Linked DNA regions of Homo sapiens. The protein of the gene in region 5 interacts with the protein of the main gene of each other region in a pairwise test. Each region holds a gene or a part of one and is shown on either strand. Other genes may lie near its edges.

The links.
Region 1: the proteins of TRNAU1AP (region 5) and PRRC2B interact in a two-hybrid assay, tested with the Homo sapiens proteins (one large-scale study listed by BioGRID).
Region 2: the proteins of TRNAU1AP (region 5) and SECISBP2 interact in a two-hybrid assay, tested with the Homo sapiens proteins (one large-scale study listed by BioGRID).
Region 3: the proteins of TRNAU1AP (region 5) and QKI interact in a two-hybrid assay, tested with the Homo sapiens proteins (one large-scale study listed by BioGRID).
Region 4: the proteins of TRNAU1AP (region 5) and GTSE1 interact in a two-hybrid assay, tested with the Homo sapiens proteins (one large-scale study listed by BioGRID).

Annotation. Positions count from the first base shown.
Region 1 is NC_000009.12:131,484,559-131,490,351, reverse strand, and holds part of PRRC2B (protein PRRC2B), read right to left. Parts: intron 5,667-5,793; coding exon 5,562-5,666; intron 5,405-5,561; coding exon 5,212-5,404; intron 4,688-5,211; exon of another isoform or gene 4,602-4,687; intron 4,268-4,601; coding exon 4,170-4,267; intron 3,186-4,169; coding exon 3,058-3,185; intron 2,497-3,057; coding exon 2,256-2,496; intron 1-2,255.
Region 2 is NC_000009.12:89,327,340-89,333,132, reverse strand, and holds part of SECISBP2 (selenocysteine insertion sequence-binding protein 2), read right to left. Parts: intron 4,474-5,793; coding exon 4,247-4,473; intron 226-4,246; coding exon 147-225; intron 1-146. UniProt on the Homo sapiens protein: mRNA-binding protein that binds to the SECIS (selenocysteine insertion sequence) element present in the 3'-UTR of mRNAs encoding selenoproteins and facilitates the incorporation of the rare amino acid selenocysteine.
Region 3 is NC_000006.12:163,557,718-163,563,510, forward strand, and holds part of QKI (KH domain-containing RNA-binding protein QKI), read left to right. Parts: intron 1-4,264; coding exon 4,265-4,352; intron 4,353-5,702; coding exon 5,703-5,793. UniProt on the Homo sapiens protein: RNA reader protein, which recognizes and binds specific RNAs, thereby regulating RNA metabolic processes, such as pre-mRNA splicing, circular RNA (circRNA) formation, mRNA export, mRNA stability and/or translation.
Region 4 is NC_000022.11:46,326,350-46,332,083, reverse strand, and holds the end of GTSE1 (G2 and S phase-expressed protein 1), read right to left. Parts: intron 5,649-5,734; coding exon 5,430-5,648; intron 3,397-5,429; coding exon 3,195-3,396; intron 2,727-3,194; coding exon 2,517-2,726; intron 2,038-2,516; coding exon 1,954-2,037; 3' UTR 1,274-1,953; downstream 1-1,273. UniProt on the Homo sapiens protein: May be involved in p53-induced cell cycle arrest in G2/M phase by interfering with microtubule rearrangements that are required to enter mitosis. Overexpression delays G2/M phase progression.
Region 5 is NC_000001.11:28,568,574-28,574,366, reverse strand, and holds part of TRNAU1AP (tRNA selenocysteine 1-associated protein 1), read right to left. Parts: intron 3,192-5,793; coding exon 3,029-3,191; intron 2,501-3,028; coding exon 2,467-2,500; intron 1-2,466. UniProt on the Homo sapiens protein: Involved in the early steps of selenocysteine biosynthesis and tRNA(Sec) charging to the later steps resulting in the cotranslational incorporation of selenocysteine into selenoproteins. Stabilizes the SECISBP2, EEFSEC and tRNA(Sec) complex.

The DNA.
Region 1 (5,793 bases), on a different chromosome or scaffold from region 5:
GGTAGGAGTCCCTACAGGAGCTGGACAGCATGCAGGGGTGTGGAGGGGATGAGACACAGCTGGATTCTGAATCCTTTTAAAGCCAGAGCTGACAGGCCTGCTGAAGGGTAAGGGGGTGAGGTGAGGGGGAGCAGGGAGCCAAGGAGGATGTGGACTGGACAAGCAGAAGGACCGGGAGGAAAATCGAGTTTTGAATATGATGAGTCTTGAGATGCCATAAGACACCATAGCAGACATGCTGGAAAGTCCATTGGATTTGAGATTCAATTCCAGGGACAGATCTGAGCTAAAGATGTCCATTTGGGAGTGAGGAGAAGATGAAGGAATTTAGAGCCATGACTCTTGAAACACACCCAAAGCAGGGCCCACGGGCATGCTGACCATTACAGACTGGGAAGGAGAGGGGACAGCAAAGGAGACTGAGGAGGAGGCCTGAGGCAGCAGGAAAGCCAGGAGCGACGGCCTGGAAACTGGGTGAAGAAAGTGGTTCGAGGGGTGTGGGGGGCGGGATTACGGGGTCAGCACTGCAGCTCGTCTGTGTACTGACGGGAAGGGATATCTGATGCATGAAAGAGAGGGAGATGTGCTGGGGCAGGGCCCCCCAGGGGCACAGGCAGCACCTAGGCAGGGATGTGGCCACAGGGGCTTGGAGACTGTCACTGCTCCTGTTTCCTGGGTGACACAGAAAGGGAGGTCATGGGTGGGAGGCAGCGAGGGGCAAGATGCAAGTCTGAAAAGCTGCTAGGAGGGTGGGGGTTGACTGGGAGCCACAGCTTGGATGAAATGCAAAGGCCATGTGGCTCGGCAGATCTGCTGATGGGGAGGAAGAAGCCAGGCCAAGGGGGAGGATGACAAAAACATGGGTGGCAGAGACTGGGTGTGGTGGCTAACACCTGTAATCCCAGCACTTTGGGAGGCCAAGGTGGGTGGCTCACTGAGGTCAGCAGTTCGAGATCAGCCTGACATGGTGAAACCCCCATCTCTACTAAAAATACAAAAATTAGCCGGTGGGTGGTGGGCGCCTGTAATCCCAGCTACTCGGGAGGCTGAGGCACGATAATTGCTTGAACCCAGGAGACAGAGAGGTTGCAGTGAGCCGAGATTGCGCCACTGCACTCCAGCCTGGGCAACAGAGCGAAACTCCATCTCAAAAAAAAAAAAAAAAAAGAATTTTGGAGTTGGGTCACTAGAGGGAGTGAATTGAAAAAGCCAGAGGTGACAACTGAGAGGGACACTGAGAGTTGAGATTATGCGAGAGCCACAGCTACTGGGAGCAGCCAAGCCTAGACAGGAGTGCACAGAGCAGGGGCCCATGTGAACAAGGGCACCAGTGGCGAGGAGGGCACAAACTGCATGGACAGGGTCCATGGCACAGAGACCCGGGGTCATCTCTGCAGACATCAAAACCACTAGGAACTGGAACAGGAGAGTGGAGACAGACTGCAAGCCAGACCAGACAAGGAGGGTGACCTTCAAAGGTGCCAAATACTGCCCACAGGTTGACGGAGAGGAAGATTTCTCAGCAGACACTGGATGTGGTGATGGCACCATAGCAGAGTGAAGGGCTTGTCAGGCACAGTCTATGGTGTGGGCTTCAAAGCTGGCGTTTCAGGGAGGAAGGAAGAAGAGGAGTCTAGAAGCATCAACAACTACACAAAGAGGACTCTTAACCCATTCCACACCCTACTGCACAAGGGCAGGGAGAAAGGAAGGAGCCCCCGTCTGGGGGCTGCAGGAGCAGGCAGTGCTTAGGGGACAGCCAGGTCTCAAGAATAAAGAGATGGATGAGGGGCCAGGGGTGGTGGCTCACGCCTGTCATCCCAGCCCTTTGGGAGGCCAAGGCGGGCAGATCACTTTGAGGTCAGGGGTTCGAGACCAGCCTGGCCAACATGGTGAAACCCCATCTCTACTAATACAAAAATTAGCCAGGCACAGTGGCACACACTTGTAGTCCCAGCTACTCAGGAGGCTGAGGCAGGAGCATCGCCTGAATGTGGGAGACAGAGGTTGTAGTGAGCCGAGATCATGCCACTGCACTCCAGCCTAGGCAACAGAGCGAGACTCTGTCCAAAAAAAAAAAAAGGTGATGGGGCTACTCAGAAGAGGCTGATTTCCTGCACGCTGAGGAATGGGCACGGTGGCTACCAACCAACAGCACGATAGGCCAGCACACACTGAGAGGCGGGTGAAAAGAAAAGGCAAGGTCGTGAAGGAAAGAAGCCTAGGGCTTTGGGTAGAGTGACTGAATTCCTGACCTGTGGGAGCTGGGAGTCCAACATCTGGGAGGCACCCAGGCCAGCAGCCTGGCTGAGCTGGCCCTCGTAGACCAGGGCTTGGTTCCCGCTCATGGGCTGGTAGGGTGAGCCAGACTGCGGCTTCACCATCTCCAAGGGCTGCATGCCTGGGAACGCCGAGTATGGAGGCTTCAAGGCTGTGCCCCCAGAGAGGATCATGGTGCTGGGCGGTGACAGGCTGGGGTGCATGTACACCTGAGATCTGCAAAAGCCAGACAGATGGTCGGGATCAGGTGGATGAGTCCAGCTGCGGATCTGGTCCCACCCTTCAGAGATCCCCGGAGAGCTTGCTAAACCACAGATCCCCGGCCCCACCCCCAGAGCGCGACTCAGAGGGTCCAGGATGGGGCCTGAGAACAAGCTCCTAGATGGCGCTGATGCTGCTGGATTAAACAAGTGAAGACATCCAGGCTGTACGAGGCACAGGACATCAGCCACAATGACTGGCAGCCACACTGACGGAGAAGCCCGCGGTGGGGAGGAGACAGGGAGTCAAGGGGAGAGGAGGAGGAAGGAGCAAGGAAAGGAGGCAAGATGACATGGAAAAGCAAAACACGGCCCACCACATATCAGCTCGCCCCAGGCCTCTCCTAGAGCACAGTTAACAACGGACTGAAGAGTGATTCAGAGCAAACTCCCACCCCTCCCCGCCCCACTGGCCCCAAAGCAGACAAGCACCAAACAGCTGCAGGACGAAGGCTGCACACAGGGCCAAGGCCCTGGCTGTGAGCTGCCAGCTCCGCAAGCTGGTACATGAGCTCACCTGAAGGGCTGCAAGGAGCTGAAGATCTCCTGGGACTGGGACACAGGAAGCCCACCCCTCAGTCCAAGCTGAGCTTGTGCCTGCAGAGATGTGTGAAGGGAGATCGGGATCTGCTGGGCAGCGGCGGCCTGTGAACGGGAAAACGGGGTCGGGGAGGTAACCGCAAGGCCCATCCAGGTGGTTCTTCCCCTCCCACCTCCCCTGCCCCTCTCCACATGGCTGCTGGAACACTGCCCAAAATTCAAATGCCAGCATGTCATTCCTGGGCTTCCCTTGCTATTGGGATAAAGCCTATAATGAAAAACTGGTAGCAACCCCAAACCACAGCATATCCCTACCCTGGAATTCTACACAGCAACAAAAATGGATCCTAGCACATACGTCAACAGAGGTGAGTTCCAAAAACATAACGCTGAATTTAACAATGCACAAAAAGAAAGATACATGCAGTCTGACCCAGTTATGCAAGAACCAAAATCTTGGTAACCAAACAATACAGCAGTTAAGAACATGTTTTTAAAAAGAGGTCAGCAGAGGCCACATCCTCCATCAGCAAGCCTGCACTTGGAGCAGATTCTGCCTGGAAGTCCACTGTCGTGGCTGTGGAGGCACATGGGTCTGAGGGGCGGCTAGACCATCCCAAAGGCCCAGCACCAGCATTAGAGGGGAGACTTCCAAAAATCACCCCTTGGCAGCACAGAAAGTATGCCAGTCCTGCATAAATAACCAACGCCTGCTCATTTCTAAGACTACCTCTTTCTAATGCATCCATGCCTGGGAGTTTAGGCCTTTCTTCTCTTCATCAGAAGGATACCTGATCACCAAAGAAAATTCCATTTTAGCTAATTCCCCGGCTAGGACACAGGAGGGAGAACTTTGAGAAAGGAAAACTAAGCAGAGTCTGGAGCAGCCAACTCCACTCCTCTTCCCTGTCTCGATTATTCGCTTAACAAATGCCTCCTGGCTGCCGTGGCGGGCCAGGTGCTGGTCACCACATGTGAGGGGGATGGAAAACCAGACAGACAATGAGAAATAGATGAGCAAGCCAATTCCGCCCTGCACTGGCTCCTCCCCACCACCCCCAGCCAGGCCACCTGGCTAGCTGCTGTCACCTGTTGGTAACTCTGCTGCTGAGGTATCGTTTGAGGAACCAGCCGGGGCTGACTTGCAAACACATGGCCATCCAGGTACAGGGGCGGGAGGTGGCTGCCTGGAAACAGAGCGGCAAAAGGGACGTAGAAGAGGATCAAGCCTCACTACTTCTCAATGTCCCTGAGGGAAACAGTCTACAGGTCTGCTCTACCCAGGGGACTCAGTGGGGACGAGGGCGTGTGTACAGAGGCTGCTAGGTTCCCTGTGTGCCGGAAGCACACGCCTGCTCACAACACGCCTGGCACGCACCTCAGGGAACGTAGGGAGGGTGCAGCGTCAGACCTAGGAGGAGGGAGGAGGCAGGTGGGCTCTGGCCTACCCTTCCCACCTCCCACTCACCAACTACCCCAGACACTCGAAGGGGCATTCTACTTTAACCAGGGCTGCCTTGGTCTCTCAGTCACTGTCCTCTTCATCTCCCTGCTATTGAGTCCACAGTGGAGGGTCAGAAGGATCTATTGGAATTACATCACTGAGACTGGCAGCTGGGCCCTCAAAACCCCCACGCTTCCCCTTGGGGACACTGGCACACGATAAGGATGGCAGCAATCAGGACAAAAGTAGCTGCCAGTGACTGAGGGCTCTGTTGATACAAAGCCCTTTCCAGGTAAGACCTGGCCTCACGGGTGTGGCCACCCCACGGAGTTTCATGTAAGAGAGGAGAGGACACTGTGGCTCGGCAAGAGCTGCTCACCAGCCGAGGCGACACGGCTCCAGCACATGACCCAGGTCTGACTCAAAGTCAAGCCTTTGCTCGCTCCTGTCACCAGTAGGCAGGAGTGCCTCGCTGTTATCCCCCAGTTCTGTTTCCCAGCGTGGGGAAGCAGGACGTGCACATTACCTGCAGCACATGGGAGCTACGACCACTGGGCCTAAAAACAAGTTGCTACTTCTACATGCTACTTAAGACAAGGCCAGGAGGTGACATTCGGGGCTGTTAATCCGTTTTTCTTGATAATAAATGGAGAAGGACCCCAAGGCCTTGCTCAGGGGATGAGATACCTGGCATAGAAGCAGAAGGTGCTACAGAGGCCACAGGCATGGGTGGCATGGACACTCCACCGAAGGAGCTGTAGTTGACCCCGCTGGAGGCACCCACAGAGGATGGAGGCTGGATGCCTGAGCCAGCGCCGCCTGGAGAGCTCTGCTCCGGCAAACTGGGGGAGTTTTCCCAAGCCTTGCGCGCAGACTCCATCTTCAGAAGCAAGGGGAGGGGGAGGGATGAAAATTACTATCACGCTGGCAGTGGACAGAGCCAATCTAAGCTTTAGGGGTTCGGGGACTCCTCCCTTCTGCCTCTTTGTAAGCTAAGGTACTGGGTGGGCCCTCACCCAGCTCAGGGCTGGTGTTACCTTCAGAGTAAGGTCGGCGGTGGGGAAGGACATTGGGGAGAGACCGATGGCCCTCTGGATGTGATGGTCCCGCCGCAGGATGGGGATACTCTGTGTTAACCCTGCCTGGAGAGGAGGAAAAGGAAACCATGGAACACAAACAGGTGCAGAGATGGCTTTGCCCAAACCCATCCATGGCTCTCCTGAACACACTCAAGGCTCGTCCAAATGTATCTATGACTTGCCCAAACCC
Region 2 (5,793 bases), on a different chromosome or scaffold from region 5:
AAACTAACACTGATGTTAGGTTACCCACAATTCATTAGCTGTCTTAAGTCTTTACAACAAAAATCATTTCAACTGCACTGGAGTTAAAAATGAACTTAAAAAATCTATGACATTTTAAAAATTAACATTTTTGCAGCCACTTTTACCTCTTGTACATGAAGGAGAATTGGTAGCGGCATTAGCAGTTACAGATTCATTTGGGTTATTTTTCACCACTATTTCACCCTAAAAAGCAAACACATTAGATGTCATCAGAGAAATGCAAATTAAAACAAGGAGATAACACTACATATCAAAATCCAGAACACTTTGACAACAGAAATCCTTATCCATTGCTGGTAAGAATGAAAAACGTTACAGCCACTTTGGGAGATATTTAATAGTTTAGCAATTCCTTACAAAACTAACCATACTCTTACCATATGATTTAGCCACTGCACTCCTTGGTAATTATCCAAAGGAGGTGAAAACTTATGTCCACACAAAAACCTGCACATGGATGTTTATAGCAGCTTTACTCATAACTGCCACAACTTGGAAGCAGCCAAGATGTGGGCTACATACTATATGATTCCAACTATATGACATTCTAGAAAAGACAAAACTGTGGAGACAATAAAAAGATAGTAGTTAGCAGGGGCTGAGGGGAGGAAGGGATAAACAGGTGAAGCACAGAAGATTTTTAGGGCAGTGAAACCACTCTGTACCATACTACTATGGTAGACACACATCATTATGCATTTCCCCAAACTCTTAGAAGACACAACACCAACAGTGAACCCTAATGCAAACGATGCGCTTTGGGTGATGATGACATGTCAATGCAGGTCATCAATTGTAACAAATGCATTACTCTAGCACAAGATGTTGATAATGAAGGAGGCTGTGTGTGTGTGTGTGTGTGCAGGCAAGGGGCATATGGGAAATCTGTACTTTCCTCTCAACTTTGCTGTGAACCTAAAACTGCTCTCGAACATAAAATCTATTTTTTTAAAAAAGCCTAAGCAGTTACTTTCCATTTCAAAGTAATCATTTAATTTTAAAATATAGCTTCCCTTGCCATTCTTAAAATCTGCAAAATATATGCTAATTAAAATTTCCAAATATATAAGTACATAAAGTGAAAAGTTAAATTACTTCCTTCAACCAAATCTCACTCCCTAGAGGAAAACACCACCCACATCTATAGCTTCATTAGTATCCTTCTACTTCTTTGCCTATGATATAAACATTTGTGTATCATATTTTTATACGGATTCCCATAATGGAATCACACCACACATAGTATTGTGGCAACTTTTAAAAAAACTTTAACATACTACTGACAAGCTTTACAAGTTGGCACAGATGCACCACACAATTCTTAAAGCTGCAATGATCCCATGTAAATGCAAAAGCCATCATTCACTAGGCACACACCAAAGTTCAACAGTCCATCAAAATGTCTACAAAGACAACAAATGTAAGCCTGCAATGTATGCCCTGTGTTATGAAGACAGAAGGCTGTCTCACATATTAAACATAAGACATATAATGACGCTATGTGTATGGGGGGGTCGAGTATATTAAAAGGCTCCTCCAAGTGACTAACACCAGAGGTAAAAGTAAATTAAAAGATTCAAAGTTGAATCCATTAAGTAGATAATGGATTTAAAATAATTTTTAAAATTCATATGCTTCACAAATTTATCCATTTGTCAATTCATAACATGAGTCCAGGAATAAAAAATAATATTAAAACACAGCCTGTTCTTTTAGTAAACATAACTTTTATGCTCACCAAGGCCAATAAAAAATTAGAAATAGCTTACCTGTTCAAGAATGGTTAAATAAATTATACCTATCAGTATGAGAGATCCAATGCAAGTTGCTTTCAAAAAATACTTAATGACATGGAAAAAATACGAACAAAGTTTTAAACAATTCAAACGTAAGACTGTACGTATTTATAATCTCAAGGTGAAGGAAATTCCCACAATAGACTATTTTTAAAAGATTATGTGTTAAGCATGCTTTTCTTTTGGTTGTACAATTTCAGACAAATATATATATTTTTTGTCATTTTCAGACATTACTAATATCATCAGGAAAAAGTTTCTTTTAGAAGGAAAATAACTTTTTAAAAAGCCCACACATAATTCAAGAGTGTATGTGACTCTCTTAATAGAGCAATCAGTATGTATATCTTCTATCTTACTTCATATGTTCAAACACATTAACAGTCACATGTAACAAGTGACCTTGATATAAAGCCCCAGTCACACTCCTGCTCACTCCACGAGCTGACCCTGAGGCTTACACAGCATCCTGGACTACTTCTGCAGGGCACTCATGAGAGCGGTACGTGATGAAGACCGGCAGCGCCGTGGCTATTCAGCCACCGCACAAACCCAGCCTGGAGCCCCTGGAGCAGGCCAGATGGAACTATGATTTTTAGATAGCCATCAGTTGGCCTGACTTCTCCCAGCTCTTTGACAGGAAAGCACCATGCTACAACAGTGTGAGGGTACAACTGTATGAGGGTCCTGCATGCAAACTGCTACACAATGGCCTATCTTCTGCACATTACCAGCAACTGTCACTGAGCCTTCAGGCCTTAGTGTCCAGGCACCTAACAGAAGTCCAAGGGCAGGAAACAAATCCTTTCTAAATTCAAGAGGTAAAGCGAATGGGTGAGGCCTGTTTTCTTTATCTTTCTTCTTTCTACTTGCCTTCGTACTGGCATGTACTCCACTGCTCCTTCAGCGGAAATTCATCAGAAGCCATTTTAGGAACTACTAACCAGACACTATTTCTTCCTGGAAGTCTCAAATCAATCCATTTGAGAGAAATGCCTCAACTTGGTGGACTAAAACTCTGAGATCAAATGTTGAACAAAGTGAATTAACCTGCTGTAATAAGTTTTCCTGAATTTGCTGCATCATTAACAAGACAAAGATGTAATAAAAGCCTGGAAAATTCAAAAGTTACACTATGCAGTTTTAAATATTACTACAGTTAAGTCCTCAGTACCATGGACAGGTTCTTGGAAACTGTGACTTTAAACAAAACAACATAAAACAAAACCAATTCCTTTTTTCATCAACATCATAATGAAATGATGGTGAAGAAAATGTTACTGGAGGACCTACTATACAGCCTTTCATTTAAAGTTGCAGTTTCCAAGAACCTATTGACAACATTATGTGAGGACTTAATGTATTTCAATTTTTATAAAAGTCTTTTTTTTCTATATTGGAAAAAGTGCTATCAGCATGTTAGAAGTAGCGTGTTGAAAATGGGCTGTCAAAGCGGCTTGACTCTGTTACAACCTTTTCCTTCTGAGGCACCACAATACCTTTCAGCTACCATATAAAAAGGAGTATACTAGATTGGGCACGGTGGCTCAAGCCTGTAATCCCAGCACTTTGGGAGGCCAAGGCAGGTGGATCACCTGAAGTCAGGAGTTGGAGACCAGCCAGACCAATATGGTGAAACCCCATCTCTACTAAAAATACAAAAAAATTAGCCAGATATGGTGGCATGTACCTGTAGTCCCAGCTACTCCGGAGGCTGAGGCAGGAGAACTGCTTGAACCCGGAAGGCGGGGATTGTAGTGAGCCAAGAAGCCAAGATCGTGCCACTGCACTTCAGCCTGGGCAACACAGTGAGACTCCCTCCCCACAAAAAAAAAGGTATACTAGGTGATTCTTTTAAAACAATAGCTACAGCCGGGCACAGTGGCGTGGGTGGCTCACGCCTGTAATCCTAGCACTTTGGGAGGCCCAGGCAGGCGGATTGCCTTAGCTCAGGAATTCAAGACCAGCCTGGGCAACATGGTGAAATCCCGTCTCTACTAAAATACAAAAAAAAAATTAGCCAGCGTGGCAGTGTGCGCCCGTAGTCCCAGCTACTCGAGAGGCTGAGGCAGGAGAATTGCTTGAACCCGGGAGGCGGAGGTTGCAGTGAGCTGAGATCGTGCCACTGCACTGCAGCCTGGTGACAGAGCGAGACTCCGTTTCAAAAACAAAACAAAACAAAACAAAACGCACAAATAAAACAATAGCTGCACTAGATGTTACAGCCTCATTATAAACTGTTCAAACAAAGAAGGTCATATAAGTGCACAATGAAAGGCTTCCCCCAATACATCCTCCCCAGCTCCATGGACATCAAAGCCCACAGCAAGATTTAATGTGTAATGTTTGAAATGAGACAATTTAAAGTGTACAAAGGAAAAAGAAAAAGAGAGAAACCCTCACCTCACCTTTGATAACACTGCAGCTGGTTTTACTACTTCTCTTAGAAGAGAAATGTCGGTAGAGACAGAGTGGACAGGTCCCCACTTGGGTTGCTTCTGTATCTCTGACATATTGTTCTCTGCACCTTGCAGTTCAGGAAAGTCCAGTGTGGTAAATTCAAACTCAGGTTTGGAGGTAGATACATTTTTTGCAATGATTCTGGATTTCCTGTCTGTTCGCTTATGGTAACCATCTGTAATTACAAAATTAAAAGTAAGAGTAAAAATTTAGTTACTGTTTGATGACCAGTATGCAAGCAAAAATTGCAGAGTACAAAGACTATTGCTATTGATGCAACAGGTTGTTGTCAAAACACCGTAACTCTTACCGGTGTTGTTCACCTTCCTTTGTAAAAGTATAAAGTTTAAATGACCATAAGTATCAATCACTCTGGTTGGACCATCATGCAGAAAAACCAAAATGCACTGTACATTTAGGAGTATGTATAGTCACGCGCCACATATGATGGTCTGATCAGCAATGGATTACGTATACAACAGCCCCATAAGATTGTAATGAAGCTGAAAAATTCCTATTGTCTACTGGTAATGTCATGGTGCGATTACTCACGTTTGTGGTGATGCCAGTGTAAACAAACCTACTGAGCTAACAGGCATATAAAAGTATAGTACATGCGATGATGTACTGTACATAATACTCGGTAATGACAATAAACAACTATGTCACTTGTTTATGTATTATACTTTTTATCTTTGGAGTATATACTCCCACTACTTACAAAAGAAAAATTTGGCCAGGGCAAGGTGGCTCACGCCTTAATCCCAGCACTTCGGGAGGCTGAGGCAGGCAGATGCAGCCACGAGTTCCAGACCAGCCTGGCCAACATGGTAAAACCCCAACTCTATTGAAAATACAAAAATTAGCTGGGTGTGGGGGCGCATGCCCCCTAGCTACTTGGGAGGCTGAGGCACAAGAATTGCTTGAACTTGGGAGGCAGAGGTTGCAGTGAGCCAAAATAGTGCCACTGCACTCCAGCCTGTGTAACACAGTGAGACTCTGTCTCAAAAAAAAAAAAAAAACACAAAACGACAAAAGAAAAACTTAAGTATAAAGCAGCTTCAGGCAGGTCCCTCAGGAGGGATTCCAGAATAAGGCATTGTTATCACAGGAGATGACAGCTCCACGCATGTTACTGTCCCTGAAGACCTTCCAGTGGGACAATATGTGGAGGTGGAAGACAGTGATACAGATGATTCTGACCCTGTACAGGCCTAGGCTAATGTGTGTGGTTGTGTCTTCGTTTTTAATTAAAAAGTGTAGAAAGTTAAAAAAAAATTAATAGAAAAAAGCTTATAGAGTAAGGATGTAAAGAAAGAAAATATTTTTGTCCAAGCCAAGTATTTTTGGTTTTTCTGCATGTTTGTGTTTTATTACAAAAGGTAAGTGTTATTACAAGAGTCAGAAAGTTAGAAAAATTAAAAATGTATAAAGTAAAAAAGTTACAGTAAGCTAAGGTTAATTATTGAAAAAAATACTTTTATAAATTTCATGT
Region 3 (5,793 bases), on a different chromosome or scaffold from region 5:
CTCCATTTACCCTGATGTGATTAATATGCATTATATGCCTGTATCAAAATATCACATGTACTTTATATATACATACACCTACTGTGTGCCCACAAAAACTTAAAAAAAAAAAAAGAAATATCGTGACTGGATATTGCACTTAAGATCTTGGGAGTCCACTGCATGTGAATTTTGCTTCCATTTTTTAAATGATTCTTGAATATAGGGCAAATACTTAGGAAACCAGAAGCTATGAGATTGCGGATAATCACTTGAGTTCAGTATTACAAAATATGATTTTAATGACCCATTTTACAAATGTAAAAGTTAGTGTTCTGTCTCTGTAGAGTTGCTCATTCCCGATCAAGGTTCTGCAGGATACTTTGTGAACTATCTGGAGTTGACATGTACAACTTCAGGATGCCCTGTTTGATCAGTTGTAATTTTTGAGAAAAAAAGAGGTCAGAAAAACTGGTCTGAAGACTGGCTCATAGAAGCTCTAGAGCCTCTAGACTGTAGAAGAAACTTAGTTTTCTCATCTGAACTTATATTTGAAAAAGAGGTGATATATACCTTCAACAGTGTTTAGGCAGGTACGTACTACCAAATCTCATTGTCAAAACCAGGACAGTAACATTGAAATAACCACTTCGATGTGAAAGTAATTCTATAATTAACCCTGTTGTCTCTTCTTTTTTTTTCTTTTTCTTTTTTTTTTTTTTTGAGACAGTCTCGCCCTGTTGCCTAGGCTGGAGTGCAACGGCGCGATGTCGACTCACTGCAACCTCCGCCTTCCAAGTTCAAGCGATTCTCTTTCCTCAGCCTCCTAAGTAGCTGGGATTACAGGCACCTGCCACCACGCCCAGCTAATTTTTGTATTTTTAGTAGAGACAGAGTTTCACCATGTTGGCCAGGCTGGTCTCGAACTCCTAATCTTCATGATCTGCCCACCTCAGCCTCCCAAAGTGTTGGGATTACAGGCGTGAGCCACCACACCCGGCCAGTGAACCCTGTTGTCTCTTAAGACACACAAGATCATGCCCTGTGAATACAGAGTGGAGGGGAGTGGTCAGGACATGAGGGTGAAGCCCATCCTGGACTGAGACCACCTAGAATCAAATTCCAGCTCTGCCAACTAAATCCTGTGCATTTCTGGGAGGCATTAGTGTACCCTGCCAAAATGTGGCTGTGATCTGGTGTAACATACCATCACCTCCAGCAACACCATATGGCAGACTACACCAGGATCTCCTCCTATGCCACTCTTATTTTTATTCTCTTAGGGTGATCTCTCCTGTTTTCATTATCCTGCACCCTGCACATTACACAAGTGTGCACACACAGTGGTAATCACACACATTTCTTCCATCTTTTTTCTCTGTGGTTTTCTCCCTTGTTTGACACTCCATTGCCAAATAATGAATAGCTATTTTGCTATCCAAAAGGAGCAGTTCAGTGCCAACATGTTTTCAAGCACCTGCCCTTCTGCAGGAAACTCGTCTTTCGTCTTTATTTCCTCTTTGTTGGAAGTAAATTTGCCCTCTTATTTGCTGACATTTTCAAACTTGTACCACTTCTTTCTCGCTATGGTAGATGACTGGAGGTAAACCTACTGCTCTTCTTTTTCTTTTTTTATGTAGAGTATAATTTATAATACTTTTGGTATTCCATTTTTATATATAAATTTAAATTTGAAACTTTTGATAAGTTTTAATTTTCAAATGACTAGTTTTTAGCAAATAAGTTGAAGTTTTATTATAATGGATTTGATTCTTCTTTTCCAATAGTAGCTTACTTATTTCGTTTTTAACAAATAATTTCTGTGTCTTTCTAAGATCATACTTACTTTTTGTTCATCTTTGTACAAGTTGATAGGAGTCAAATTCTACAGGCATGCCAGTATCCACTCCCTGTAATCTTCTGCAAAGTAGGTTTTTAAAAAGTTGGCAGTAGCACATCAAAACATTGTCTTTATGTTTCACTCATATTTTTCTTTAATTCTTGTGATTTACTAAAAGCTCACTGAACAGTTCTGTTTACTATATATTATAGTATACCATTCACCATTGTAATGCCAAAAACAGAATTTTGTGTGTCATTACAGCTATAATAGAAAGGAGCACTGAGAAGCCTGTGTCCTGGTCGTCCTTCCCGTTTTATGAATCAGAGAGGAACAAGACTATGTCAGAAAATTGTTGCATTGTGTTACTTTCATTGTAAATATCACAAAGTCATGTAAAGTTACTGGGATTCGATGATACATAAAAGTGGGGGGCAGTTAGTTCTATCTCTACACAGACTTTGATAGATGGACCCTCATCTACTGCTTGCTTTGACTGTGGCTAAAGTTTATGTTGGACTGAGACATTTGGGATTTGGAAATAAAGTTAAAGACTTCTCATACCAGTCACTTATAAGTTCTAGTAAGTAACTTGGGGGTGGCCGTGGGAACATGGGGTTAGGCAGTGGTAACAAAGAAATAAGCCCTATTCTCATGGAGCTTACTTTGGGAGTGGTGATACTCAACAGACTGTAATTTGAAGTAGAAGCAATTAACTTTGTCGATAGGTTCTTGGAGATACAACTTTAAACAAAATGAGTATATTGCAGCCTCTTTTTTCATCAATGTTATAATGAAACCATGTTGAAAGCAGTGGCATTATTTGAGGACCTGCTGTCTGTCGTTTCACTTAAAGTTAGTTTTAAAGAATGTATTGACCACATTAAGTGAGGATCTACTGTAATCTAGGGATGGCCCCTGGAGAAGGAAGGTAGCATTTAGGTTGAAGTTTGTGGGGATGGGGATAGGTAGGATTTGGAAAGAGAGAGGGGCAGAGAGTGCGCAGGGGAGCACTTAGGATGGAGGAAGTGGGAATATGCACAGAGATGAATGGTGGAGAGCAATCTGGTTTGACTTAAGATGTTACTTACATACGTGTGTAAAGTAGTAGGTTAATGGGCTTAACTTGAGAGGATATTTTGGGACCAGATTATAGGCAACTAAAGTTTTTTATATTTTTAGATAGTAAGAAACCATGAAAGTGTTTTGAGACAGAATGTTGAGAAACATGATGAAAATTGTGATTTGGGCAATTAATCTGGCCTTTGTGTAGAGATTGATTGGAGAACAGACACCATTAGCAACATGTTTTAGTAGTTTGGGTGCTATGCCAAAAACAACTGGAACAGTAAATGGAAAGAGTGGGACCAATTCAAGGTAAATGGGGTGGCCAAACATTTTGATGATTAGAGACTATCCTGATTTAGGTTTGAAGCATGGTTATTATTAGTGCCCATTTTTGCTTTTAAAAGTTTTCTGCTTTGGACAATAAATCATATGGTGACCCTAAAGATAGATTGCTGTAGCATTGATAGCACTTGCTAATTAGATTGAAAGGAGACAGGGATGGTGGTGTAAGAGAGCAGAATATACGGTTTTTTAGAAGTTATTATTTCACTGAGTTTTCATATTTTGAAGAATTAAGCATAAAATTTCCTTACCTAAATTCTGTAATCAAATCTTGTATGTTTAAAATTATTTGTGTGCACATGTGCACGCGCGTGTGTGTATGTGTGTGTTTAACGAACACATTTGAGTTTTGGAATATTCAGCAAAATGATAGTTGCTGGCTGGGTGCAGTGGCTCACACTTGTAAACTTAGCACTTTGGGAGGCTGAAGCAGGAGGATCACTTGAAGCCAGGAGTTTGAGACCAGCCTGGGCTACAAAACGAGACCTTGTCTCTACAAAAAATAAAAAAAATTAGCCAGGCATGGTGGCGCGTGCCTCTAGTCGCAGCTACTTCGGAGGCTGAGGTAGGAGGATGGCTCGAACCTAGGAATTCAAGGTGGCTGTGAGCTAGGATCATGCCACAGCACTCCAGCCTGGGTAACAGAGCAAGACCCTGTATCTAAAAACAATAAAATTAATTAAAGTAATTTTAAAATGATAGATGCTGAAGAGAATATGTTATGTTTAGTCTTATCTCACATTTTCATTCATTTCTATTTAAAAGTAAAGCTTTTTAGGGGAACTTTAATAAATCGGTGTAACTGACAAAAAATTTACAAATACAATATGCTGTATATCAACATGCCTTTACTGAGAAAACAGAGAAAGCAGGCTCCATTATGTTAGCACCTTTTGGTTCTTGATCTTTTTTTCCCCTTATTAAAACAGGTGACTGTAGTCACATGATACTTACTTTAAGGCTTGTGTGTAGATATAGCTATTATATTTGTGGACAGTCTCAAATGCTTTCATCTCATGTGTTTTCCATGTATAGGCAGAAGGAGAAGACAGCCTGAAGAAGATGCAGCTGATGGAGCTTGCGATTCTGAATGGCACCTACAGAGATGCCAACATTAAATCACGTAAGAATGAGCTCTGAGGCCCAGGGTTACTGCTGTCTGCGTTGTTTTGTCTACAGACTTTTTTCCTTTTGGCAACACAATAATAGTTCATACAAAGTGAACAGTTGAAATAACTGTTCTGTCACTTGATATGGGGCTGACAGTCCTATTTTTAATGCTTTCATGAATTGAGGACACTCTTGATTTTATTTTATGTCAGCATGTTGAAGTTTTAGGTTGATAAACTTACATTATTTTAACAAAATCACAATCTCTAAATTCAAGTGTTTAAGAAATTTTCTGTTTGGTTAACTACAGATGTAGGGCTTGCAGCTTATCTTGTTAAATTTATGCAAAAGACAACATATTGAAAGCTTATTTTGAAAAAGTGAATTTGAAGTGTATCTGACTGAAATGACCCTCTGTTGAGTTCTGTCCTTTCACTTTGCTTGCATGTTTTCCCTCTAGTATTTTTCCCTGTTGATTTCATATGTGAGTTCACAGAGATCAGTGGGTGATAACTCTTTTTCCGTCCTATTTTTGTTTTTATGCGTATCTATGCATGTTTTTATAAGCCGTAAGAGGATAGCTTTTTTATGTTTAAAATGAAATAATGTGAAATTTATATTTTGAAACAATTTAAGATTCATACATGTCATTTATATGAACATACCATGTTTAAATTACTGATTATTTAAAACACATAGAATTTTTAAGTTCTAGCCAGATTTAGAAGATGTAGGCAACCTCTAGTGGGTTTAGAAGTAGTTACTTTACAAATTGTTGACATTAATTTACTCATGAAAATGTGAGTATATCATTAATAGGAATTTAGAAGTAGGGCTTTTTAAGATTTTCTGTGACGTTGGTTCCTAAAGATGCAGGAAATGTACATATATACCTAGTGGTTACTTGACTAAATGCAATAAAAATTATTCTTTCTTTACTTTGAAACTAAAGCTGTACTTTAGAAATATACCAAAACTGAGTTTCTGTGGACTCCGGTTACAAATTATTTTTTAACATCTGTTAATGCAAGTGTTTCATTGTGCTTCTGCATGTACTTTAGTCTTATGAAATCTTAGATATATCAAATGTATGAACTAAATATAACCTATTTAATGGTGTCATTCATTTTTTTACAATGGCTTTTTAATTTTTGCACATTCTTAATCACATTGGGAAAGGGAAAGCTGTTTGCATTTGATTGGTGTGCTTTTGCATTTTTGTGTGATCAGCGCATGTACTAATGATTTCCTTTTATTTTTCTTCTTTCCTGCTTTTCCTTTCTTTTTCCTACTCCCTTCTCATTTTTCCGTATTTTATACTGCTGTCTCTATACTTCTTTCTAAATTTCTTTGCTTACTGTAGCAGCCCTTGCCTTTTCTCTTGCAGCAACAGCCCAGGCTGCTCCAAGGATCATTACTGGGCCTGCGCCGGTTCTCCCACCAGCTGCCCTGCG
Region 4 (5,734 bases), on a different chromosome or scaffold from region 5:
ACTGAGGCACAGCTTGGTTACAGATGAGCTGGGAGCTGAACATCTCCCTCCTCTACCCAGTGGGAAGCCCTAAGAGGGAAGGGGTACCTGAGCGCTGCACCCCGCTGCACCCAGCAGAAAACAGCCTGACCCATAGCAGAGCCTCAGTAAATATTTGCTGCATGGTTTAATCCAATTTCAGATTTCCTTTTCTACCCCTGGGAAATGAGGGCCAGACCAGAGGTTCCCTGAGGACCCTCCGGTGTCACTACCAGGCCCCTGGGATTCCCTGCTGTCCCGGAGACGTGGAGCCGCCGTGATTCCCACGGGCCCGGCGACTCTGGCCAGCGCAGGACTGGCTGAAAGTCTTACCTGGGGAGTCACTGCTCATGGAGCGGGGCTTCTCTGGCTTCATGACTCACACATCCAAGCAGCTCTGCCTGTGGGGAGCTTCCGTCTGCAGGCGCAGCAACTCAGCCGTGAGAAGCGCGCCACCTTTCCACCATGGCAGTTTCCACCGAGACGTCTTTCCACGGCATCGCCTGTCCACCCTACCCCTCCCTGCTCTCGACGGCAGAGGACTCGCTGTTCCGAGTGGCAGCTTTAGAATCACGCAGTAACCGCAGGAAGTAGAGAGCACAGCACAGTCATCATTTTCCCTCATCTTTGTGGACAGAGGCAGATCCTGGTATGACCCAGGGAGCACTGGAGTGGGGTCCGAAATACAGAGTCCGGCCGCTGGCTCGCTGCTGTCTGCCATGAAGCCGCTCAACCAAGGTGGTAAGTTTCCTCAAGAGAAATGGACACAAAGTAGCGGCTTCCTGGAGCTCGTTTTCTAAATAAAGGGAATGGGCTTTCCAGTGGCACTCAGTTCCTGCCACTGCCCACTGAGCTTGTCGGGCCCCTGCTGAGAGCAAAGCTGAGGGGTCCTCCCCGAGGCCTGCCCAGCAGACGCCGTCCATCACCTTAGTGTCCAGGTAAGCCCGGCCTCCTCGCCCATCCTCTTTCCACTCATACCCTCGTCTCCCCAGAGCAGCTTCTTCTCAAGGGGTGTGTCTCAGGCCATCGAGTCAGCATCACCTGTGTGCCTAGTAACAATTACTAGGCTGGCCCCAGACCTAGAAACTAGTGTATCTGGGGGCGGGCCTGGGCCTGCACTGACATCAATTTTTATTGACTAATTTTTGAAAATCACTTGTATGAAAGCATTCGAGTCTAGATAGTAGCCTTACTGATTAGAGTGATAAAAATAGCTATGCATGTTTGAAAATCAAGATAAGCTTAAAAATCAAGATATGCTTCAATAAGTCCATTTATTTTACAATTTAATGTAAATCTAGAATATCTAACTATTTATACAAACTTAACTTTAAAAATAGCCACTTGCTATTTTACATACAAAACATTCAAAAGAAAATTCTTCATTTAGAGTGACTGAGGCTTCACATTCCAGCCCAGAGAATGGCAGCGAGGAGGGTGGCGGCGGGAAGCAGAGGCCTTGGGTGGTCCGTGCTGGCCCCAGTCCCTCAGCCCACCCTCTCCAGCACTGGGAATATATTTATGCTTATTTTTCTTTTTCAAATAAAACTTCTACTAAAACATGTTTCTTTTTTTTTTTTTCCAAGACAGGTTCTCACATTGGTGCCCAGGCTGGAGTGCAGTGGCACAATCACAGCCCACTGCAGCCTGCATCTCCTTGAGCTCAGGCCATCCTCCCACTTCAGCCTCCCAAGTAGCTGGGACTACAGGCATGCACTACCACACCCGGCTAATTTTTGTATTTTTTGTAGGGACAGGAGTTTCACTATATTTCCCAGGCTGGTCCCGAACTCCTGGGCTCAAGTAATCCGCCCACCTCAGCCTCCCAAGTTCTAGGGTTACAAGTGTAAGCCACTGCGACCAGCCTAAAGCTTGTTTCTGAGGGTTGAAAACCACTTTAGGGCTGTTCTTTCAAGGCAAAGGATTTGGTTCGGCTTAGAACTTGAGGAGTGGGGAATCCACGTTCTCCTTGTCAGCCTCAGGGCTCAGCTGGATCAGAGGGGAGCTCAGGTCTATGAGCTGGAAGAGAGCAGAGTGGAGGAGGTGAGCGTGGATCCGGCTAGGGCCTCCCTTCCCCTCCCTGCACAGAGGACTGGCTGCGTGGGTCATCACAGCCACTCGCTCATCCTGGCTCGGGTGCACTGAAAAGCACTCTGGGCCACCACGTCTAAGAAGCTGGAAGGAGACAGGACACACACGGAGAAGCCCAGGCCCCCACCATGCACATTCCTCTGTCCCACATCTGGCCCTGGGGTCTATGGGCAGGAGAGAGGCGGTCCCTGTCCAACAAGAGCTGGCAGGGTCCTGGCAGGGCACCTCAGAGGCAGCTGATCTTTGAGAAGCTCAGGCTGCCAAAGGTGCATCCTGCCCTGAGGTGTGTAGCTGAGAAGACTCAACAGCCACTCTCAAGGGTCCCACGATGGCCCTGGGAGGATGAACAATCCCAGAACTGAGGACACCCAGGGCTGAGTCAACATGAACCACCTGCCACTTCTCACCTGTCCCACCACCGGTGAAGGTTTGGCCACATTTTTATTCATGTCTGGAGTGTTTGTCATGAGGTCGATCAGAGGCCTGCTTTCAGATCCTACAGCCACGTGTGCTTCTGGGGTATCGCAGAAGTCGATGAGAGGAAGGTCAATGAGGGGCTGGCTTGCAGCATCTGGAGTGACCGCGAGTGGTTCCAGTTTGATATCTACAAGAAGAGCCTGGGTACAAAACCAAGGTTAAGAGCAGAGTCCAGCATCTTTCTGGCAACCATCTTGGGAGAATGTGAGCTTTGCTCATGTTCCAGGTGGGCTGGCGGTTTGGAAAGCCAAGGAATCAGGCGGGGCCTTGGTGGAAGGAGGCTCTGTATGGGGTGGGCCGTGCCTCTCTGACTGTTGCCCACCTCCCTGTCCATACCCGCTCACCAGCAGCCACCAGCTCCTGCCACCCTGCTTCCCGCTTCCTCAGCTTTGATCCCTGACCCTTGCCTTAGTCAAATGCAGGGCTTTCTCCCCTGGAGGCCTGGAAGTCCTGACTGCCTCCCTTTGGGTTGCTTGGCACGGAGGCACTGGCCCCAGGATGAAGCATGGCAGGGAACTCCGCCAGCCACAGCCCTGGGTTCCACGGGCTTCCCGAGCAGCCTCCAGGAATCTCAGCTAACAGAACCCAGCTGCGCCCGTTCTGCCCACCTCACTAGGGGCTGCATCTCCACCCGGCTTGGCTTCCTCCCGAGCTACTTCTGTGGCAGTACTTTTGGAGAAAGTAGAATCGCTTTCCTCTGGAGAAAAGTTAAGTGCCTGAGGCACACGGGAAGGAGGAGAACCCCTGTCAGGGGACACATCCACCAGCCTGGAATCTGTCTTTCTGTTGCTCTCCCTTGTTGGTTCAGTTCTGTGGGAAGGAAAAAAACTTATGAGAAAATGTCTCTAAAATGCTCGTTCACTTGGCTGATGTGGGAAGCAAGTCACTCTGGAGGAACAGTGTCCTGGGTGGAGTGCGTCCCGGCTCTAGGGCCTTCACCCTCCAGACCCCCAGTTTCCTGTGTATGGAAGGGGCTCAGTGATCTCTCCAGTTCCTCTCAGCTCACAAATCTTAGCTGTCCAGCATCACCAGGGGCTGATGTTAGCCCCTTCCTTTCTAGTTACTAAACACAAGGTAATGCGCACGCCCGTCACCTCCTGAAGGGAGCCCAGACCACACACAGGGACCCCTCCTTGAGCCACGGCCAGCTCCTCCTCGCATGCAGCTAGTGGGGGGCTTCTCCTAGGCCTAGGTGGGTATGCAGCTGGCTCCTTCTGCCCCAGATGCCCCCTCCCCTGCTGCCCAGTGCCCTGATCAGGGCTGAGGCCCCAGGTACAGGCTGCCCACACCAGCTTTCCAATGGCGTCTCCCACAGGACCCTGCACGGGCGCTGCTGGGCTTGCCTGCTGCCCACAGGTCCTCGAGTACCTGCCACGCAAAACTGAATTCCTTCCGGAAACCCAGCAAAGCCGCAGGTCCATCAACTAACACACAGTACCTTCTTTTTAATACTTCAGAGGTTTCATAAGAAAATTCCAAAAACAAGCAGAATTTTGTTTCTACATTTACACTTACAAACATACAAGATAGTTAAACACATATTCCTATTTATATATCAGATCTGGTGTTTTCAGTGAGGCCTTGTTTCTCATTTTCTCTTTGGCATTCCATGCCTTTCCCTCTCCCTCTGTAATGCACACACATGCCAGCATATTTTCTTCCAGAGTCTTCTGCATTATCATAGAACTACATAGATACACACAGTGTCAACACCTACTGTTGGTAGATGTACATACACAGAAACATATAAGATATATAAAAATGTGTAATTTGTGTATAAATACACGGATATTATATATGTTTTTTTGTTTTGTTTTTCGTTTTTTTGAGACAGGGTCTCTGTTGCACAGGCTGGAGTGCAGTGGTGCGATCTTGGCTCACCCCAACCTCTGCCTCCCAGAATCAAGTGATTCTCCTGCCTCAGCCGCCTGAGTAGCTGGGATTACAGGCGCATGCCACCATGATGCCCAGCTAATTTTTGTATTTTTAGTACAGACAGGGTCTCACCATGTTGGCCAGGTTGGTCTCGAACTCCTGACCTCGTGATCTGCCCACCTCGGGCTCCCAAAGTGCTGGGATTACAGGCGTGAGCCACCGCGCCCGGCTAAGATAGTTAACTTTACACACTAGCATGATCTGTTTCAAAGGTTATACACGACTGAGGTGTGACTTCATTGGAATCAGGTGCCTTTTTCAATCTTTAATCATTTCTGAGCTCCAGCTATGGCTTACTTCATGTGTTCTGGGTCAATTTAGATAAATTTTATTTTATTTATTTTATTTATTTTAATTTTTACAGACGGGGTCTCACTCTGTCCCCCAGGCTGGAGTGCAACGGGGCAATCTCAGCTCACTGCAGCCTCAACCTCCTGAGCTCAAGTGATCCTCCCACCTCAGCCCCCTAAATAGCTGGGACTACAGTGCACGCCACCACACCTAGCTTATTTTTGTATTTTTTGTAGAGATGGGGTTTTGCCATGTTACCCAGGTTGATCTCAAACTCCTGAGCTCAGGCAGTCTGCCTGCCTCGGCCTCCCAAAGTGCTGGGATTACAGGCGTGAGCCACCACACCTGGCCAATAACTTGCAAATTTTAGAAAACCATTAGGTTTTCAAATTGATTATCAGAGAATTACACGCAGTATTTCCTTGTAATACCTTTAATTTTCCTCTATGCTCATGTCTATTGCATTTTCTCTTTGCAATGAAAAAAAAAACAAACAAACTTTCCAAATACTATTTACTTCACTAAAACCTGGAGCAAGGCAAGAAAAAGGTATGTCACTGTCTGGGACAGCAAGCCTAGGAATTTGAGACCAATTTATTACCACCTTCGTGTCTTACCTCATTGCAGAGTTCTTGCGGGGCTCAGAGGAACGTCTCCGAGCTGGCACACACAGGGGAGAGCCCACGGCCCTGGGCATCGTTTTGGGGGTCATCGGTGGAAGGCCAGAGCAGCGCCGGCTGGCGGGTGTGGGCAAGGCTGACACACGCCATGCGCTCAGCAGGCTTTGTGGTGCTGGCCCAGATGAGCGTCTAACCGGGGTGCTGTGGACAGTGACCCTGGCAAACACAACATCAGTGTCGTGAGCTGAGATGACATAGAAAAAGTAAGATCTCATCATTCAGCCTGTGCTAATGCAGTGCTG
Region 5 (5,793 bases):
CCTGTAATCAAAGCACTTTGGGAGGCTGAGGCGGGAGGATTACTTGAGGTAAGGAGTTCGAAACCAGCCTGGCCAACATGCTGAAACCCTGTCTCTACTAAAAATACAAAAATTAGCCGAGCGTGGTGGTGCATGCCTGTAATCCCAGCTACTCAGGAGGCTGAGGCAGGAGAATCACTTGAACCTGGGAGGCAGAGGTTGCAATGAGCTGAGATTGGAGACTGCACCACTGCACTCCAGCCTGGGTGACAGAGCAAGACTCCGTCTCCCAAAAAAAAAAAAAAAAAAAGAGATGGGGTCTCGTTATGTTGCCCAGGCTGGTCTCAAAGTTCTAGGCTCAAGCCATCCTCCAACCCACGTTGGCCTTCCAAAGACCTTACAGGCTTTAGCCACCGTGCCTAGACAGTAAATACTGTTGTTTTTTTTTTTGAGACGGAGTTTCACTCTCGTCACCCAGGATGGACTGCAATGGAGCATTCTTGGCTCACCGAAACCTCCATCTCCCGGGTTCAAGTGAGTCTCCTGCTTCAGCCTCCCAAGGAGCTGGAATTACAGGCATGGGCCACCATGCCTGGATAATTTTTTTTTTTTTTTGAGACAGAGTCTTGCACTGTTGCCCAGGCTGGAGTACAGTGGTATGATCTCGACTCACTGCAACTTCCGCCTCCCGGGTTCAAGTGATTCTCCTGCCTCAGCCTCCTGAGGAGGTGAGATTATAGGCGCGCAACACCACGCCTGGCTAATTTTTTTATTTTTAGTACCGGCAGAATTTCACCATGTTGGCCAGGCTGGTCTAGAACTTCCGACCTTAGGTGATCCTCCCGCCGTGGCTTCCCAAAGTGCTGGGAGTACAGGGGTGAGCCACCGCGCCTGGCAATTTTTTTATTTTTAGTAGAGACGGGGTTTCACCATGTTGGCCAAGATGGTCTCGATCTCTTAACCTCATGATTCACCCTCCTTGGCCTCCCAAAGGGCTGGGATTACAGGGGTGAGCCACCGTGCAAGGCTTAAATATTTTTAATTAAAAAATTAATAATGGGCTGGGCACGGTGGCTCACCCCTGTAATCCCAGCACTTTGGGAGGCGAGGCAGGCGGATCACGAGGTCGAGTTTGAGACTAGCCTGGCCAAGATGGTGAAACCCCGTCTCTACTAAGAATACAAAAATTAGCTGGGCGTGGTGGCATGTGCCTGAAATCCCAGCTCTTCGGGAGGCTGAGGCAGGAGAATCACTTGCACCCGGGAGGCGGGCTTGCAGTGAGATGAGATTGCGCCACTGCATTCCAGTCTGGGTGACACAGCAAGACTCTGCCTCAAAAAAAAAAAAAAAAGAAAAAGAAAAAATTAATAATGGCTATTACTATGTTGTAATAGGATATGGGGTGATTTTCAGTTTCATTATACTTTACTATATTTTCTTTTTCTTTTTTTTTGAGACGGAGTCTCGCTCTGTCTCCCAGGCTGGAGCCCATTGGTGCGATCTCGGCTCACTGCAAGCTCTGCCTCCCGGGTTCACGCCATTCTCCTGCCTCAGCCTCCCGAGTAGCTGGGACTACAGGCGCCCATCACCACACCCGGCTAATTTTTTCTATTTTTTAGTAGAGACGGGGTTTCACCGTGTTAGCCAGGATGGTCTCGATTTCCTGACCTCACAATCCACCTGCCTCGGCCTCCCAAAGTGCTGGGATTAGAGGCGTGAGCCACCATGCCTGGCCCATACTTTACTATATTTTCCAAATTTTCCATCCTAACGATGACTTAAAAATCAGGAAAATATGTCTTTTAAAATATATTGAAAAACAGAAAAAAAATAAAATAAATAAAAAATGAATTTTACAAACAGTCAAACAAATAAAAGGTAACAGTATTATCGGCCAGGCACAGTGGCTCATGCCTGTAATCCCAGCACTTTGGGAGGCTGAGGCGGGCGGATCACCTAAGGCTGAGAGTTTGAGACCGGCCAAGCCAACATGGAGAAACCCTGTCTCTACTAAAAATACAAAATAATTAGCTGGGCATGGTGGTGCATGCCCGTAATCCCAGCTACTCGGGAGGCTGAGGCAGGAGAATTGCTTGAACCTGGCAGGTGGAGGTTGCGGTGAACTGAGATCATGCCATTGCACTCCAGCCTGGCCAACAAGAGTGAAACTCCACCACACACACACACAAAAAAAGGGTAACAGTATTATCGTTAGAGGCCCACATACCAGGATAGAATGCCACATGTCAAGGGGGTGATGGGCTCTCCTGGAGCTGCCTGTCCCAGGCTCTCTGGGATCTACACTTACACCTCTGGGTAACACCCGACACATCTTACCATAATTACATATTTGTCTGGCTCTCTAACCAGAATGTAAGTTCTTCCAGAGCAGAATTTATCTTGTCTTCCCTCTAGCTGAGAGCACAGTGCCAGCCACAGCAGTCACCTGATAATGGCTGACAGAGTAAGGAACGTATGAACCCTTACCTTCCAATGCATCATCTCCAACTTCTTCATATGTCTGCCAAGAGACCAGAGATGTGGGTTAGGGGCATGGTGAAATCCTGGCCCAGGACCACAGTGGCTTATATTTTTTATTTTTTTTGAGGTGGAGTCTAGCTCTGTCACCCAGACTAGAGTGTAGTGGCGTGATCTCGGCTCACTGCAACACCCGCATCCCAGTTTCAAGAGATTCTCCTGCCTCAGTCTCCTGAGCAGCTGGGATTATAGGCGCCTGCCACTATGCCCAGCTAATTTTTTGTATTTTTAGTAGATACAGGGTTTCACCATGTTGGCCAGGCTGGTTTTGAACTCCTGACCTCAGGTGATCTACCTGCCTCGGCCTCTCAAAGTGCTAGGATTACAGGTGTGAGCCACTGGGCCCTACCCACAATGGCTTATTTTTAACAAGAGGAACTGGACTGCTTCAACTTTCCCTATTTTTTCTGAAGCCCAAGCCCCTGTCCTTACCAATCCCATCCTAGAGAATGACCTGTTTCTAGAGGAGAAACACAACCCAAGGGGACCAGTCTTGCCAAGTCATGGTTACCTGCATGGTGCTCTGGGTATAGCCATACTGGGGGTAACTGTAGCTGTAGCTGCCTGTGTTCTGGTCATAGCCCCACTGAGCATAGTAGTTCTGGTACTGCTGATAATACTGGTTGTAGCTATAACTGTACATCTGACTATATTCCACTGGCTTTACACGGCTCCTTAAATGAAGACAGAAACAAAAATAAGTGTAAGCAAACATTTCCGTAACACTGCCTATGTGGCCACAGACTATTTTAAGTGCTTTATACCGATTAACTTTTTTTTTTCTTGAGACAGAGTCTTGCTCTGTTGCCTAGGCTGGAGTACAGGGGCGCAATCTCGGCTCACTGCAACCTGCGCCTCCCGGGTTCAAGCGATTCTCCTGCCTCAGCCTCCTGAGTAGCTGGGACTACAGGTGTGTGCCACCACGCCTGGCTAATTTTTTGTATTTTCAGTAGAGACAGGGTTTCACCATGTTAGCCAGGCTGGTCTCGATCTCCTGACCTCGTGATCCGCCTGCCTCAGCCTCCCAAAGTGCTGGGAGCCCGGCCACCAATTAACTCTTTTAATCCTCAAAACAACCATATGCAATAAGTGTATCATTATTCCTATTTTACAGATAAGGAAACTGAGGAACAGAGAGGTTAAGTAATTTGTCCAAAGTCACACAGCTAATATGAGAGTATGGCTCCAGAGACCATGCTTTTAATACAGGAGATTTTAATGGATAGGTTTGTCTCTCTTAACAAACTATGTCAGGACTGGCAAAAGGATATCCTGTTTAAAAAAAAAAACAAAACAAAAAAGGGCTGGGTGCGGTGGCTCACACCTGTAATCCCAACACTTTGGGAGGCGAAGGCAGGTGGGTCACCTGAGGTCAGGAGTTCCAAGACTAGCCTGGACAACATGGTGAAACCCCATCTCTACTAAAAATACAAAAAATTAGCTGGGTGGGATGGCGCGCCCGCAATCCCAGCTGCTTGTGAAGCTGAGGCAGGAGAATCGCTTGAACCTGGGAGACAGAGGTTGCAATGGGCCTAGATTGTGCCACTGGACTCCAGTCTGGGCAATAAAAGTGAAACTCTGTTTCAAAAAAAAAAGAAAAGAGACAGACGTGGTAGCTCACGCCTATAATCCCAGCCACTTGGGAGGCTAAGGAAGGAGAATCGCTTGATCCTGGGAGGCCCAGCTAATTTTTGTACTTTTAGCAGAGATGAGGTTTCACCATGTTGGCCAGGGTGGTCTTGAACTCCTGGCTTCAAGTGATCCACCCAACTCAGCCTCCCAAAGTGTTGGGATTACAGGCGTGAGCCACAGCACCCCGCCTTTTGTTTTCGTTTTTTTTGTTGTTGTTTTGAGAGAGTCTTGCTCTGTCGCCCAGGCTGGAGTGCAGTGGCGCGATCTCGGCTCACTGCAACCTCCGCCTCCTGGGTTCATGCCATTCTCCTGCCTCAGTCTCCCGAGTAGCTGGGACTATAGGCGCCCACCAGCACGCCCGGCTAATTTTTTTTTTTTTTTTTTTTGGTATTTTTAGTAGAGACGGGGTTTCACCATGTTAGCCAGGATGGTCTCAATCTCCTGACCTTGTGATCTGCCCGCCTCGGCCTCCCAAAGTGCTGGGATTACAGGCGTGAGCCACTGCACCTGGCCTTTTTTTTTTTTTGAGATGGAGTCTCACACTGTCACCCAGGCTGGAGTGCAGTGGCACAATCTTGGCTCACTGCAAGCTCTGCCTCCTGGGTTCATGCCATTCTCCGGTCTCAGCCTCTCTGAGTAGCTGGGATTACAGGTGCCCGCCACCACACCTGGCTAATTTTTTGTATTTTTAGTAGAGACGGGGTTTCACCATGTTAGCAAGGATGGTCTCGATCTCCTGACCTTGTGATCCACCCACCTCGGCCTCCCAAAGTGCTGGGATTACAGGCATGAGCCACCACGCCCAGCCTATTTTGTTTTTTAAGAGACACGGTCTCACTCTGTTGCCTGGGCTAGAGTGCAGTGGAGTTATCATAGCTCATTGTAACCTTGAACTCCTAGGCTCAATCAATTCTCCCACTTCAGCCACCAGAGCAGCTGGGACTAGAGGAGTACACCAAGCCCAGCTAATTTAATGTTTTTATATAATAATTTATTTACAACAAATAACATTTTTGGGAGAAGTCACTAAGCCTGATCTTCAATGTATTAAACACAGTTAAACCATAAAGAACCCCTAAATCATTGCTTTCAAAAACATGGCTATTTGGCTGGGCGCAGTGGCTCACGCCTGTAATCCCAGCACTTTGAGAGGCCAAGGCAGGCAGATCACCTGAGGTCAGAAGTTCAAGACCAGCCTGATCAACATGTGAAACCCTGTCTCTACTAAAAATACAAAAATTAGCTGGGCTTGGTGGCACATGCCTGTAGTCCCAGCTACTCGGGAGGCTGAGGCAGGAGAATCGCTTGAACCTGGGAGGTGGAAGCTGAAGTGAGTCAAGATCACGCCACTGCATTCCAGCATGGGCAAAAGAGCAAGACACCATCTCAAAAAAAAAAAAAAAATAGTTCAACTACTCTTAGGGTAGAGTTTCTCAGCCCTGGATCTATTGACGTGGAGGGGTGGGTGGCTGTCCGATGAATTGCATGATGTTTAACAGTATCCTTGGCCGATACCCACTAGGTGCCATTAGTACATCCTTGGTTGTGATAACCAAAAATGTCTCCAGATGTTGTCAATGTCCTCTGGGAGGCAAAATCACTCCAGTTGAAAATCATTAATTTGGCTAAAGGATAAAAGATCTG